Regions from separate parts of the Homo sapiens genome. Here region 2 is linked to region 1. A link means that fine-mapping ties the variant in region 1 to the expression of a gene that starts in the linked region. Tissue or cell type: whole blood. Region 1 holds a variant in brackets; the other region holds the start of a gene. All regions are shown on one strand. Distances are from middle to middle.

Region 1 (8,102 bases):
CCCTCCTCGGCGGGATTGGTCGGACGTGGGGGTGACGGGCAGTCGGCCAGGCCTGGGGTTTGGGGCTGGGGGGCGGGGAAGGGGCGGGGCGCGCGGGGCGTTGCCCAGGGCAACGGGCCCGGCGGAGTCTGAGGTTGGGCCTCCAGGCCCGCAGGGGGCAGGCTCGCGCGCGTCCACCCCAGCTGCCCCGAGCGAAGTCACAGTTCCTGATTCAGGCGTTCCAGGCCTCCTCTTCCCCGCCCCTTGGGTGGCCCGCCTCACCCAAGGCTGTCCTCAGTGGGCGTCTGCACTCGGGCTTCTGGGCGCTCGGCTTTCTCATCGCGCTGTTCTCAGCCTTGCCGCTTGCTCTCTCCGATGGGAATGGCGAGGCGAGATCTAGCCTTTAGGGTGGGAAGAGAATGCACAGAAAGCGCTAAGGATCAAGGAGGCTGTCAATAAACGGGAGTTGTTGCTGTGACTTTGGTTGTGATCTGTGCGTTCCACAAACTGTATTGGGTCCGGGTGAACTAATCAGAGGGACCTGTGTTCAGAAGGCTCTCGGTGACAGAGATCTGGCTTGTTACAGGCACTTAGAGAGGCAGTCGGGATGGAGGGTCGAGTTGAAGACAGGGAGGGGTGAGGAACGAGCAGAGGCCAGTTGTTTGGCCACTTGAGGGAGTTTGGACTTGTCCCGAGGGCACTAGGGAGCCGTGAAGGGCTTCAAGCCGGGGAGGATCATGGTGAGTCTGGGGTTTTGGAGAGATGTCTCTCTGGCTTATACATGGAGGGCGGATTGGAGGGAATGAAACGGGATCGGGAGTCCAGGGAGGCAGCTGGGGGAGGGGGTGGGGAAGAAAGAGGGGGTTTGCACGAGGGAGGGACTGTGGGGAGGGAAGGAGGTGCAGGTGGGAGGGACGCCCTGGAGGCAGAGCGAACGGGCCCTGACACTGGCTGGCTATGGAGTGGAAGGGGGAGAAAAGTTTAGGACCAGGCCCCTCTAGCCGGGAGACTGGGCGCCAGAAGCAGGTTGGGAAGATACTAAGCCCAATGTGGATGCCTAGTAGCGAGGTCCAGGAGGTGCACAAACCCTGGGTCTGGAGCTTAAGGGAGAAATTGAGGCTGGAGACCAAGATTTAAGGATCGTCAAAGATGGTAATTGAGGCTGTGGGAGTTAGGGGTCTAGCCCGGGGAGGGTATGAAGGGTCACTGGAGACAGGGACTGAACAGAACCCTGAAACAGAGAGGCAGGATTTGAGCAAAGGAATTGACGCTGTCGATGAATATTGCAAAAGGCAGCCAGAGAGAGGAAAACCAGGAGAGTGTGGCATTATAGACGCTTTGAGGAAAGGCTGTTTCACCAGGGTGGGGCCATGTCACAAACCCCATCCACTACCTCCTGCATTTAAGCAACAGCCTTCACACTGCATAGAATTATTGTGCTCATTAACTGCTGGTTCATTAATTCATTCAATAATATTTCTTGACTATCTAATATGTGCCAGGCTCTGCTTAAGGTGCTAGAAACACAACAATAGGATGAGCGCGGTGGCTCACACCTGTAATCCCAGCATTTTGGGAGGCCGAGGCAGGTGTTCGAGACCAGCCTGACCAACATGGTGAAATCCCATCTCTACTAAAAATACAAAATTAGCGGGGCGTGGTGGCACATGCCTGTAGTCCCAGCTACTTGGGAGGCTGAGGCAAGAGAATCGCTTGAACCCGGGTGGCGGAGGTTGCAGTGAGCCAAGATCGTGCCATTGCACTCCAGCCTGGGCAACAACAGTGAAACTCCGTCTCAAAAAAAAAACAAAAAAAAAACAAAAAGACTTACATTCTAGTTCTTGGGGACACAAACAATAAGGAAATACAGTGTAACTTCGTGATAAGTACCAAGGAGAAAAAGAAAGCAGTGGCTGGGCATGGTGACTCATGCCTGTAATCCCAGCACTTTGGGAGGCTGAGGCTGGTGGATCACTTGAGGCCAGGAGTTTGAGACCAGCCTGGCCAAAGTGGCAAAACCCTGTCTCTACTAAAAATGCCAAAAATTAACTGGGCATAGTGATGCGTGCCTGTAGTTCCAGCTACTCAGGAGGGTGAGGCAGGAGAATCACTTGAACCCAGGAGTCGGAGGTTGCAATAAGCCGAGATTTGCCATTGCACTCTAGCCCAGGTGACAGAGCGAGACTATGTCTCTAAATAAATAAACAAATAAATAACAAGAAAGCAGCTAAGGGAATGGAGTAATGCAGCCAGAATTAATTTACATGGGGAAAGGCCTCTTTCATTAGGTGAGACTGAAACAGAAATCTGAAGGAATGAAGGAGAAAGTGGGTTCCAGAAAGAGAAAACAGCAAGTGCAAAGGCCATGTAGTAGGATCATTCACAGAACCACAAAGGGGCCAGCATTGCTGGAGTGGAGTGAGCAAAAGAGGGCAGTGAAGGACAAGGTCCAAGAGGCAATGGGGTAGGGGTGGTGACAGATAACTTAGTATTTTAGTCATTGTTGGTGTGTGTGTGTGTGTGTGTGTGTGTGTGTGTGGGGGGGGGGGGCAGGGTCTCACTCTGTTGCCCAGACTGGATTGTAGTGGTGCGATCGCGGCTCACTGCAACCTCGGCTCACTGCAACCCCTGCCTCCTGGGTTCAAGTGATTCTCCTGCCTCAGCCTCTGGAGTAGCTGGAACTACAGCCGTATGCCATCAAACCTGGCTAAGTTTTGTATTTTTAGTAGAGATGGGGTTTCACCATGTTGCCCAGGCTGGTCTTGAACTCCTGGACTCAAGTGATCTGCCTGCCTCGGCCTCCCAAAGTGTTGGGATTACAGGCGTGAGCCACTGCGCCTGGCCTGCTGTTTGGTTTTTAGAGATAGGATCTTACTCTGTCACCTGGGCTGGAGTGCAGTGGTGTGATCCTAGCTCACTGCAGCCTCAAACTCCTGGGCTCAAGTGATCCTCCCAACCTCAGCCTCCCAAGTAGCTGGTACCTGGGATTACAGACACATGCCACCATGCCCGGCTACTTTTAAAATTTTTTTGTAGAGACAAGGTCTTGCTATGTTGCCCAGGCTGGTCTTGAACTCCTGGTCTCAAGCAATTCTCCTGCCTTGGCCTCCCAAAGTGCTGGGATTACAGGCATGAGCCACTGTGTCTGGCCCATGGGAGGGTTTGAGACCAGCCTGGCCAACATGGTAAAACCCTGTCTCTACTAAAAATACAAAAATATGGCTAGGCGCGGTGGCTCACACCTGTAATCCCAGCACTTTGGGAAGCTGAGGTGGGCTGATCACGAGGTCAGGAGTTCGAGACTAGCCTGACCAACATGGTGAAACCCCGTCTCTACTAGAAATACAAAAATTAGCTGGTTGTGGTGGCGCACACCTGTAATCCCAGCTACTCATGAGGCTGAGGCAGGAGAACTGCTTGAACCTGGGAGGTGGAGGTTGCAGTGAGCCGAGATTGTGCCACTGCACTCCAGCCTGGGTGACAGAGAGACACTCCATCTCAAGAAAAAAAAAAAAAAATTAGCCGGGTGTGGTGGCTCACGCCTGTAATCCCAGCTACTTGGGAGGCTGAAGTGAGAGAATCGCTTGAACCCAGGAGGCGGAGGTTGCGGTGAGCTGAGATGGTGCCACTGTACTCCAGCCTGGGTGACAGAGCGAGACCCCTGTCTCAAAAAAAAAAAAAAAGAAAAGAAAAAAAGAAAACCAGGCAAGTGTGGTGTCATGAAGACGATGTTTCAGGGAACAGGGAGTGATGGGCTGTGTCAGATGTGGCTGAGGAGGAGTGAGAATTGACCATTAGATCCAGCACCGTGGAGTGCATGGGTGACCTTGACAAGGGCATGTCAGCTGAGAGGAATACAGGTGAAAGGCTGATTGGAGAAGGCAGAAGAGAAAACTGGGAGGAGAAATTGGAGGCAGCAATGTAGATTATTCTTTTGAGAAATCTTTTTTTTTTTTTTGAGAAGGAGTCTCACTCTGTCACCCAGGCTAGAGTGCAGTGGCGCAATCTTGGCTCACTGCAAGCTCCGCCTCCTGGGTTCACGCCATTCTCCTGCCTCATCCTCCTGAGTAACTGGGACTACAGGCACCTGCCACCACGCCCGGCTAATTTTTTGTATTTTTAGTAGAGACGGGGTTTCACCTTGTTAGCCAGGATGGTCTCGATCTCCTGACCTCGTGATCCACCCGCCTTGGCCTCCCAAAGTGCTGGGATTACAGGCATGAGCCACCACGCCCGGCCTCTTTTGAGAAATCTTGCAGAAAAGGGAAGGAAATGAGTGAGCAGCAGCTGGACAGGAGATACAGTTTTATGTTTTTAAGATGGAAGAGGCCAGACACAGTGACTCACGCCTGTAATCCCTGCACACCAGGAGGCTGAGGCAGGAGGATCGCTTGAGGCCAGGAGTTTGAGGCCAGCCTGGGCCACATAGCGAGATCCTGTCTCTATAAAAATCAAAAGTAAAATTGGCCAGGCATGGTGTTGCGTGCCTATAGTCCCAGCTACCTAGGAGGCCAAGGTGGGAAGGTGGCTTGAG[C/A]CCAGGAGTTGGAGACTGCAGTGAGCCATGATTACACCGCTGCACTCCAGCCTGGGTAACAGAATGAGACCCTGTCTCAAAATAAAAGAAAAAAAGAAAAGAAAAAAATTAAGATGGAAGAAGTAACACTGCATGGAGGCTAAGGAGAAAGATCCAGGAGGCATGGGGACGTTGGTGAGACAAGAGGGAGAGAGAGGACAGCTGCAGAGATGTAGGTGAAGGGGTAGAGTCCAGTGTAGGGTCCGGGGTTTGCCCACCATGGAGGGAAGTGGGCCAGTCACAGTTGGCCTAGGACCCTGTGGAAATTGTCTTTTGTTTGCTTTTATCTTCTCACTGAAATACATATGGTTTTTGTGTGAACTACATTCCTTTTATTTCTTCTTTATATGACAGTCAGGACATTATATTGATTTTTTTTTGAATTTATGTGTGTAAGTAGGTTATATTATCTAGGAATTTTATTTCGGGATGGGAAAAGGGGGCAGTGCAAAAATACTCAATAAAAAAAATAGCCGGGCATGGTGGCTCACAGTGGCTCACACCTGGAATCCCAGCACTTTCGGAGGCTGAGGCAGGTGGATCATTTGAGGTCAGGAGTTCGAGACCAACATGGCCAACATGGTGAAACCCCATCTCTACTAAAAATACAAAAATTAGCCGGGCGTAGTGGCACGTGCCTGTAGTCCCAGCTACTTGGGAGGCTGAGGCCGGAGAATGGCTTGAACCTGGGAGGCGGAGGTTGCAGTGAGCTGAGATCGCACCACTGCACTCCAGCCTGGGCGACAGAGTGAGACCCTGTCTCAAAAAAAAAAAATTGGGTACCGGTCTGACGGGATTGAACTCCCTTGTTGTAGGGCCTCATAGGTCATTGCAAGGCTAGTGAGGTTGGAAAAGTGCAGGAAAAAAGTCACCATTACCCAGGCACTGTGGGGTTGCCCCTCTGGTCCCCATTTTGCCATTGACATAATGGGCGTCAGTCTGACCAGCAAAAGACTAAACTCCCCTTTTCCAGCCCTGCAATTCAAATATCCCAGATGGGGGTAAATCTAGGAAGGCCACCTGGAGGAGGGGAGGAGCAAAATAGTTCGTTTTTAGTACCTATTGTGTCTGCCATGCTGGCAGCTATGTGAAGCTATTTATTTATTTATTTTTATTTATTTGTATTTTTATTGCCTGGGATAGAGTGCAATGATGTGATCTTGGCTCACTGCAACCTCTGCTGCTCGGATTCAAGCAATTCTTGTGCCTCAGACTCCCGAGTAGCTGGGATCACAGGCGTGCACCACCATGCCAGGCTAATATTTTGTATTTTTAGTAGAGATGGGGTTTTGCCATGTTGGTCAGGCTGGTCTCCAACTCCTGACCTCAGGTGATCCGCCCGCCTCGGCCTCCCAAAGTGCTGGCATTACAGGTGTGAGCCACCATGCCCGGCCGATGTGAAGCTATTTATATCCTCACCACAATCTCAAATCAGAGGGGTGAAGTTACTTAGCTAGGGTCACACAGCAAGGAAGCTTTGGAACCCTGGTCTGAGCGATTTCCTGACAGGTCCTGGCAGATGAGGGGAAGGAAGGAGGGGGAGGAGCCCTCTGTGACAGTTGTCCCAGAAAGGGCATAAACAGGATGTGGTGTTGGATGAAACCTTCCTCCTACTGCACAGCCCGCCCCCCTACAGCCCCGGTCCCCACGCCTAGAAGACAGCGGAACTAAGAAAAGAAGAGGCCTGTGGACAGAACAATCATGGTCAGGGGCCAGGGGTTCTATGGGAAGAGCTGGGGCTGGGGTTGGGGCTGGGGCTTGGAGGACACCTGGGCGAAGGTCAGGCTATGGGATGGAGGTCACGGGCCGGGAAGGGGGCCCAACTGTGGTGAACAGCCCGGCTGGAAGAACAGAGAGACAGTGGCTCTGGGTTTAGGCTCAGGAAGTGGATCTCTGCACCTCCTTGAGTGTCCCCCAAGAGTCCCCGTGGAGAAGGCGGGAACCCAGCCTCTGCTCCGCCCCCCAAGCTGAGTGCCCTGGTGAGGGGTATCTACTCTGTGGGAAGGGTGCCTTTTCTCAATGTTCACAAAGGCATCAGATGGGCCGGCGCGATGCTCCTCTTCATTAGTGGATGGAGAAACAGGTTTGGGGAAGGGGTGAGGGCTGAGGCCAGGCCATTTCAGCTCTTCCTGGGTCCCTCCGGCAGTCTGACTCCCTGGTGGTGTGCGAGGTAGACCCAGAGCTAACAGAAAAGCTGAGGAAATTCCGCTTCCGAAAAGAGACAGACAATGCAGCCATCATAAGTGAGTGACATCTTCCCCCACAGAAGGATGGGAGGGCGGTGGTGAGGGCAGATAGGGAGGGCTGGGCTTGTGTCCCCCATGGATCAGGGGGAGTGTCTAATCCCTGTGTGCCACCCCTCCCCAGTGAAGGTGGACAAAGACCGGCAGATGGTGGTGCTGGAGGAAGAATTTCAGGTGATGGGCTGGGGTGATTGGGACTGGGAGGTACAGGGTGAGACTGGGAGAACCAAGTGGTTGGAACTGATATGAAGAGCCTGGCATGGGGGTAGAAAGACCTGGAGATTGGCCGAGCACAGTGGCTCATGCCTGTAATCCCAGCACTTTGGGAGGCCGAGGCAGGTGGATCACCTGAGGTTGGGAGTTCAAGACCAGCCTGGCAAACATGGTGAAACCCCATCTGTACTAAAAATATAAAAAGTTAGCTAGGCATGGTGGTGGGCACCTGTAATCACAGCTACTTGGGAGGCCGAGGCAGGAGAATCGCTGGAACCCGGGAGATGGAGGCTGTAGTGAGCCGAGATTGTGCCACTACACTTCAGTCTGAACCACAGAGCAAGACTCTGTCTCAAAAACAAAAACAAAAAACAAAAAAACAAAAAACCCTGGAGATCAAGTTCTAGCTCACTCATGACCCCCAGCAAGAGACTTTGCCTGTTTGTGTCTCTATTTCCTCATCTGTGAAATGGGGAGAATAGTACTTATCTCATAGGCTTGTTTTTACATCCAGTGATTTAATTCTTGTAATGGGTTTAGAACAAGGCCTGGCACTTAGTATGTGCTCAATAAGGTGATGATGATCTTAATAATGATGATAATAATGCTTTATTGGCATTTAAATGAAAGAGTTTCCATATAAGTTAAAAAGCTAGCCAGGCATGGTGGCTCATGCCTGTAATCCCAGCGCTTTGGGAGGCTGAGGCAGGAGGATCACTTGAGCCCAGGAGTTTAAGACCAGCCTGGGCAACATGGTAACACCCTAACTCTACTAAAAATACAAAAATTAGCCAAGCACAGTGGTGTGCACCTGTGATCTCAGCTACACAGGAGGCTGAGGTGGGAGGGTTGCTTGAGGCTGGGAGTTTTGAGACCAACCTGGGCAACAAAGCAAGACCCCATCTCGGCTGGGTGCCGTGGCTCACGCCTGTAATCTCAGCACTTTGGGAGGCTGAGGCGGGCGGATCACAAGGTCAGGAGATCGAGACCATCCTGGCTAACATGGTGAAACCCCGTCTCTACTAAAAATTCAAAAAATTAGCTGGGTGTGGTGGCGGGTGCCTGTAGTCCCAGCTACTCGGGAGGCTGAGGCA
Region 2 (8,102 bases), 110 kb before region 1:
TTCTGAGACCACCCTGGCCAACATGGTGAAACCCCATCTCTACCAAAAATATAAAAATCAGCCAGGTGTGGTGGCGCACCGCTGTAATCCCAGCTACTCAGGAAGCTGAGAGAGGAGAACTGCTTGACCGTGAGGTGGAGGCTGCAGTGAGCTGAGATCGTGCCACTGCACTCCAGCCTGGGTGACAGAGCAAGACACCAAGACAAAAAAAAAAAACCAAACTAACCTTCCTCCTCCAGGCAGCCATCCCCGCCCCCTCTCCCCCAGGCAGAGTCAGGCACATCCTCTATGCTCACAATTCTCTGGGCTCCCTCCATCACAGCCCTGACCACTGTGAGCCTCCCAATAGTAGGGCCCAGTCCATCTCAGGCACTGCTGGGTCCCCCAACATCACCCAGCCCAAGGCCAAGCACAGAAGACTTCAGAAATATTTGCTTAACACAAATCTCGACTAGCCCACGATGAAGCACATTTTAACAACCCAAACTATGACAGGACCACAGGCTGATTTCTAGGAACCTTGTCATCAGTTCCCCTCTGACAGGTCCCAGAGATGCCTCTTTCCAAACCTGGCTCCTCCCTCCCAGTGGAGGATGCCCCCACCACTCTCTGCTCACCTCAGGGCTTGGATGTGCTCTCACCGTCCTCAACATCCCCTGCAGTAACTGTGTATCTATAAAACTGCCTCTGCCTTGAGACTGAGATCTCTGTAAGGGAGACTGTGACCCCAACATGCCAAGTCAAGGAACATTTGTTTTTTGTTTTTTGTTTTTTGAGATGCAGTCTCGCTCTGTCTCCCAGGCTGGAGTGCAATGGTGCGATCTCTGCTCACTGCAAGCTCTGTCTCCTGCGTTCACGCCATTCTCCTGCCTCAGCCTCCCAAGTAGCAGGGACTACAGGCACCCACCACCACGCTAATTTTTTGTATTTTTAGTAGAGACGGGGTTTCACCATGTTAGCCAGGATGGTCTCAATCTCCTGACCTCGTGATCCACCCACCTCAGCCTCCCAAAGTGCTGGGATCACAGGCGTGAGCCACCACACCCAGCCAGAACATTTGTTGAATGAATAAATGAACAGGTTACTGGAGCCATGATGGGTGAACCAGCAGCTCCCCTCAAAAGTAGCTCATTATTTGCCATCCCTACCTGTCTAGCCACAGAACCCTGTCCTTCAAGGACCATGTCATCATTTGGCTGTCTGAAAAGGCCATCCAATCCTGTCCCTGGCAGTGGGGACAGGCCTCACAGTGCCCTCTTGCCTCACCTGGTAACTGAAGAGGAGCCAGCGGCGGGGGTGGGGGGTCAAGTATGGTGTAGTGTTGGGGAAGTGAGACTAGTAACAGTGCAAACGAGAATGTCCCAGACAGGAAATGGAACTGGGGATCTTGGTCTCATTTCCACCTGACTTTAACCACCAAGCAGTGTCTCCAAGCCATGAATCAGAGACCAAGAATCCAGTGCTACAGCTTAGAGAAAAGGCCCTCCCTGTCACTCTCCCACCACAGCATCCCAATTTCTCCAACTCTTCACTGCAAGCCTGGAAGCCAGGCACTCTCCAAAGGTCACAATAAAGATTGGCAATCAAATGTCCACAGAGGATAAGCAGGCAACATAAGTGACTGGGACAAGTCACCCGAAACACACAGCACTCTCCATCTACCAAACGTTTTCCAGAACACAGCCACATGAAATCTTTTCCTTTTCTTCACTCTGCCACAAGGCAAGCAAGAGGACAAATGGCAACTAACATATCCTGGGAACTGGAGAAAATTCCCAGCTGTATAAGTAGGGCAGCCACTCATCAAGCAAACGGCTGCTCTGCAGAACAACTCTGTGTCCCAGGGTGCCAGCTCCTTCCATTTCCCCAGAAAAAGAAATCTTAATCTTTATGTTAAATCTCCCTCACAAGCATTGGCAACTAATTTAACAGCCAATTTAAGTTTCTGTGCATCAAACAAGGGATCTATAATCACCCTGTCATCTGTTTACTGGTTTGTGATTGCTACCTACTAAATGTCAACTCCAAAAATGCAAAGATTTCCTACCAGACACCTGAGAAGTAAGTGGAACACAGTAGTAGATGCAAACACTGATTTGTTCAACAAACAAATAAAACAAAAATAAGTTTAAAAGGTGGATAATGGGCTTGGTGCAGTGGCTCACGCCTGTAATCCCAGTACTTTGGGAGGCCAAGGAGGGTGGATCACCTGAGGTCAGGAGTTCAAGACCAGCCTGGCCAACACAGTGAAACCCCGTCTCTACTAAAAATACAGAAATTAGCCTGATGTGGTGGTGCATGCCTGTAATCCCAGCTACTCGGGAGGCTGAGGTTGCAGTGGGCTGAGATCATGCCACTGCACTCCAACCTGTGCAACCTAGTGAGATGCTGTCTCAAAAAAAAAAAAAAAAAAGATAATGGCAAATAAAAGAACATTTGAAATCAGAAATGCCCCAGGAAATGTTGGTTTTTTGGTTCCTGGAACAGAGGTACAACAGACCCAAAGCCAGAGTGATCCTTTCAAAACATTAGATCACATCTTCCACTTGCTCAAACTTTTTCGTGGTTTCATTTTACTCAGTTAAGACCAAATTCCTTACCACAGCCTTCAAGATCCTATATGACTTGGCTCTCATAAATTCTTTGTTGCACTCACTCTGATCCAACCAAAGTGGACCCCCTTTTTTTAGGGGGTGGTGGGGAGACAAAGTCTCACTCTGTCACCCAGGCTGCAGTGCAGTGGCACCATCACAGCTCACTAGACCTTCACCTTCTGGCTCAAGCAATCTTCCCACCTCAGCCTCCCAAGTAGCTGGGACTACAGAAGCGTGCCACCAAGCTCAGCTAATATTTTTATAAGACGGAGTCTTGCTCGTCGCCCAGGCTGCAGTGCAGTGGCGCGATCTCAGCTCACCACAGTCTCCACCTCCCTGGTTCAAGCGATTCTCAGCTTCAGCCTCCCGAGTAGCTGGGATTACAGGTGGGCGCCACCATGCCAAGCTAATTTTTTTGTATTTTTAGTAGAAATGGTGTTTCACCATGTTGACCAGGCTGGTCTTGAACTCCTGACCTCAGGTGATCCACTGTCTTGGCCTCCCACAGTGCTGAGATTACAGGTGTGAGCCACCAAGCCCGGCCTCAGCCAATGGTTTTTATATTTTTGTAGAGACAGGGTCCCGTTGTGTTACCGAGATTGCTCTCAAACTTCTGGGCTCAAGTGATCCTCCCAGCTTGGCCTCTCAAATCCTCGTTAATCCCTGAACACGGCGGACACACTCCCATCTCTGCACCTGCTGGTCCCCCTCACTGGAACACTACACTTCCAGCTAACCACGACTCACTCCCTCACCTCCAACAAGTTTTTGCTCAAATGTCACCCCTCAGACTCATGCTGATGACCCTATTTCAAGAGCAACCAGGACTCTCCATTCCCCTTTTCTGTTCTTTTCTCCAGAGTACCTTCCAGCTTACTATATAGTTTATTCCTTGGCTATATTTATTTACATTCCCGAAGGCAGACATTTTTAAAATCTTTTTGTTTACTGGTGTACCCTAAGAGCAAAGAATTGCGCCTGGTACATAGTAGGCACTACAAATATAGTTATGGAATGACTAGACATAACTAAAAAAAAAAACTAATGCTAAGTGCTTACTATATGCACACAGAGTAAACTTTCAAAACATCACCTGTTATCTCACTGGACCTGACCCATTTCTGGCCTCCAGAACCTGTCCCTTTGCTTGACTTCGACTTGCCTAATTCTCTATCTCTTGAGACAATCTGGGAGTTCCCAGAAGCCAGAGCCCGCTGTGAACCCCTCGAGCCTCCCACAGGGGCCTTTCTGCCCGGAGTCCTGTCCCCAGACGCAATGTCTCCCCCAGCGCCCCAGCCACAGACCTCGGCCTCCTCGCCGTCACTGCTGCGCTCGCTGTCCTCCTCCTCGGAAAAGTTGCTGTCCTCGCTGTCCGACATCTTCCGCTGCTGCTGGGAAAGACAGCAGCCTTGGCGCGTCCCACAATCCTGCGCTCCACCCCGAGCCTCAGTTTCCCCGCTGGTTCCCTGGGAGAAGAAAACCCCTTAGGGCGCTTCCGGCAGGCTCGTTTTGGCAATCGCGAAGCGGAGTGAGGACCCCCTCCTACGCCACATGCTAGACCTCCCCAGTTTCCGAATCTGTTCTCTACACCTCCCCGGCGCCCGGAACTGCCACCTCTGCACACGCACTTACCTCTCGGGCTCCACCTCCGCCTTCGGTACCAGCTGCTGTTCGCACGACGCCTGACTGGGGCTGACGGGTCCTCTCGCGAGAACCTACCCGTTGACCTCGCCTAACACGAGATTTCCGGGGCTGGCACGGGCGACGCACTTCCAGGTCGCCATCTTGAGAGAGGCAGGGCTGGCCTGGGCGGAGTGCGGGGCCGACATCTGCGGAGGGTTAGGAGGGGAAAGGTTTTTTCTACCCGCCGGCTCGGCGACCAGGCTGAAACTCATGTTTGAATTTAGTGAGCCGTTTGTTCGTTAGTCCGGAACACTAGCGCGGTAGGCCAAGCTGCGAGGAGGCGGCGAAATCAGCGAATAGCAAATTATAAAAGAAACAAGGCTTTATCTCCTAGGCCCTCTAAAGCATCCCCAGGAGATCCGTATCCCCGTTTTGGAGAGAACGCTGAAGCTCAGAAAAACTCAGTGGAAAGCGGCAGACCCAAGCCTCCTCGCCAAGTCTGAGTGACCGTGAAGCCCTGGTTTTTCCTTCTTTTTCTTTCTTTTTGTACTTTTTTTTTTTTTTTGGTAGAGTCGGGCTGTTGCCCGGCCTGGTCTCAAACTCCTCTAACTCAAACTAAAAAGCCATCCTCCGGCCTCGTCCTGCCAAAGTGCTGAGATCACAGGCATAACCTGCCGCGCCCGGCCCAAGTCCCTATTTTTCTTTCCAGGCTTCCTAAGTTCATTTAAAGGCGAATTTATCTATTAGTAATGACGGCTGACGAGTGATGGCAGAGTGGACAGGTGTAATGGAGAGATGAAAAATGAACCTTCGCCTGTAATCCCAGCGCTTTGGGAGGCTGAGGCGGGAGGATCACCTGAGGCCAGGTATTTGAGACTAGCATGGGCAACAAATTGAGACCCCATGTATCCAATTTTTGTGTTTTTTTTAATGTGGTGTGGTGGCGTGTGCCTGTGGTCCCTGCTACTCCAAAGGCTAAGGTGGGAGGATCACTTGAACCCATGTTGAGGCTTCAGTGAGCTATGATTGCACCACTGCACTCCAGACTGGGTAATAGAGACCCTGTCTCTAAAAAAAAAAAAAAAAAAAAATTAAAACTTAAATTTTTAAAAATTGAAAAATTAACCTGATAGGGGAAATTTTAAAAATCAGAAGTCTATGTCAGTCGCGGTGGCTCATGCCTGTAATCCCAACACATTGGGAGGCCGGGGCGGGCAGATTGCCTGAGGTCAGGAGTTCGAAACCAGTCTGGCCAACATGGTGAAACCCCGTCTCTACTAAAAATACAAAAAAATTAGCCGGGCGTGGTGGCATGTGCCTGTGATTCTAGCTACTCGGGAGGCTGAGGCAGGAGAATGGCGTGAACCCAGGAGGCGGAGCTTGCAGTGAGCCGAGATCGCGCCACTGCACTCCAGCCTGGGCGAGAGTGAGACTCAGTCTCAAAAAAAAAAAAAAAAAAAAGAAGCCTCAGGACACATTGGTAAAATTTCTCACATAAGTATGACACACCTGGGCCGGGCGCGGTGGCTCACGTCTGTAATCCCAGCACTTTGGGAGGCCGAGGCGGGTGGATCACGAGGTCAGGAGACCGAGACCATCCTGGCTAACACGGTGAAACCCCATCTCTACTAAAAATACAAAAAAAAATTAGCTGGGCGTGGTGGCGGGCGCCTGTAGTCCCAGCTACACGTAAGGCTGAGGCAGGAGAATGGCGTGAACCCGGGAGGCCGAGCTTGCAGTGAGCCGAGATCGTGCTACTGCACTCCAGCCTGGGCAACAGAGCTAGACTCCATCTCAAAAAAAGAAAGGATTCTCCACCGGGCGCGGTGGCTCACGCCTGTAATCCCAGCACTTTGGGAGGCCAAGGCAGGCGGATCACCTGAGGTCAGGAGTTCAAGACCAGCCTGGCCAACATGGTAAAACCCTGTCTCTACTAAAAAATACAAAAATTAGCCAGGTGGCGTAGTGGCGCACACCCGTAATCCCAGCTACTCGGGAGGCTGTGGCAGGAGAATCTCTTGAACTTGAGAGGTGGAGGTTGCTGTGACAAAAGAGCAAGACTCCGTCTCAAAAAAAAAAACAACAAGAAAATAGGATTCTACATATTAAATCGCTACAGACACTGCTGCAGAAAGCCATTCCCTGCAGAAAAAAGAGGGCACAGTCATTTCCCCAGCCATGGAAGTTTCTTCCTTGGTGGATCCGTGGTTCTGAACTCAACTCTGGTAGCACATCAGAATACTTGAGAATATTTTAGAAAGAAAGAGTTGCATAATAGCCCTAAACTGGAAACACAAAAATTAGGGCCGGGCGCAGTGACTCACGCCTGTAATCCCAGCACTTTGGAAGGCCAAGGCAGGCGGATCACGAAGTCAGGAGTTCAAGACCAGCCTGGCCAATATGGTGAAACCCCATCTCTACTAAAAATACAAAAAAAAAAAAAAAAAAAATAGCCAGGTGTGGTGGCGCACGCCTGTAATCCCAGCTACTTGGGAGGCTGAGGCAGGAGAATCACTTGAACCAGGGAGGTGAAGGTTGCAGTGAGCAGAGATCGCACCACTGCACTCCAGCCTGGGCAACAGAGTGAGACTCGTCTCAAAAGAAAAACAAATTTTGGTACATCCATCCATGCAACAGAATAGTAACAACTACCAATACACCCATGACTGAATCTCCAAAACATTATGCTGAGTGAAAGAAGCCAGACATCAGGAGATGTCCAGCATGATTCCATTCATATGAAACTCCAGAGCAAGCAAAACCAACCTATACAGACAATGCAGATTAGTGGATGTCTGGGGCTGGAGAGGGAGGTGGAAATTGACTGGGAAGAGAGAGAAGGAATGCTTTGGGGTGATGGAAATGTGGCCATCCAGTCCACCAGCCGGTGCACTCCAGCCTGGGTGACAAAGGGAGACTCTGTCTCAAAAAAAAAAAAAAAATGTCAGGTGTGGTGGCTCATGCCTATAATCCCAGCACTTTGGGAGGCCAAGGGGGGAGTATCGCTTGAGCCAGGAGTTCAAGATTAGCCTGGGCAATAAAGGGTAACCCCATCTCTACAAAAAATACAAAAATTAGCTGAGTGTGGTGGCATGCGCCTATAGCGCTAGCTACTTGGGGGACTGAGGTGGGAGAGTCACTTGAGCCTGAAAGATCGAGCCTGCAATGAGTTTTGATCATGCCACTGCACTCCAGCCTGGGTGACAGAGTGAGACCCTGTCTCAAAAAAATATATGGGCAGATGCCAAGTTACAGCCTGTGCAGCATAGTGAAACCCTGTCTCTAAATAATAATAAAAATAATATAGATGCTCAGGCTTCACCAGAGACCAATTATCAAATTATCTGGGCTGGGGTCTGGCCATCAGTATTACTTGAAAGTTCTCCAAGTGGTGGGCTGGGCACGGTGGCTCACGCCTGTAATCCCAGCAGTTTGGGAGGCTGAGGTGGGCAGATCACAAGGTCAGGCGTTCGAGACCAGCGTGACCAACATTGTGAAACCCCATCTCTACTAAAAATACAAAAATTAGTCAGGTGTAGTGGCGCGTGCCTGTAATCCCAGTTACTCAGGAGGCTGAGGCAGGAGAATTACTTGAACCCAGGAGGTGGAGGTTGCAGCGAGCTGAGACCATGCCACTGCACTCTAGCCTGGGCAACAGAGTGAGACTCTGCCTCAAAAACAGAAAAGAAAAGAAAAGAAAGTTCTTCAAGTGGTAATTTTTTGTAGCCAGGGATGTAGGGATGTGAACCACAGGACCCTCCCTGTTCTCAAGGTATAGGGATGAGGTTAGAGAATACCTGTGCACTTCTCTGTCCCTTCCTGGAAGAAGAGAGAAGAGTATCTAAAGGAGGGTGAGAATGGGGGCAGGTGGGGCAATTTATCCAA

What was found. PIP is the estimated chance that this variant, and not a neighbour inherited with it, causes the effect.
Region 2: SUPT5H starts here. The variant in region 1 is fine-mapped to the expression of SUPT5H in whole blood (TOPMed, PIP above 0.99).

What each region holds. Positions count from the first base shown.
Region 1 is chr19:39,334,128-39,342,229 of GRCh38, reverse strand. It overlaps GMFG (glia maturation factor gamma), which reads left to right and starts at 6,187. Exons shown (of 7, transcript NM_004877.4): 1 at 6,187-6,256; 2 at 6,699-6,795; 3 at 6,920-6,969. The coding sequence starts at 6,254. RefSeq lists a silencer at 1-120. The variant C/A (reference allele first, on the strand shown) is at 4,514.
Region 2 is chr19:39,441,762-39,449,863 of GRCh38, reverse strand. SUPT5H (SPT5 homolog, DSIF elongation factor subunit) reads right to left here and starts at 4,282. Exons shown (of 30, transcript NM_001111020.3): 1 at 4,227-4,282; 2 at 3,899-4,060. The coding sequence starts at 3,973. RefSeq lists enhancers at 3,853-4,072, 3,445-4,241, 4,213-4,482, 4,242-5,039.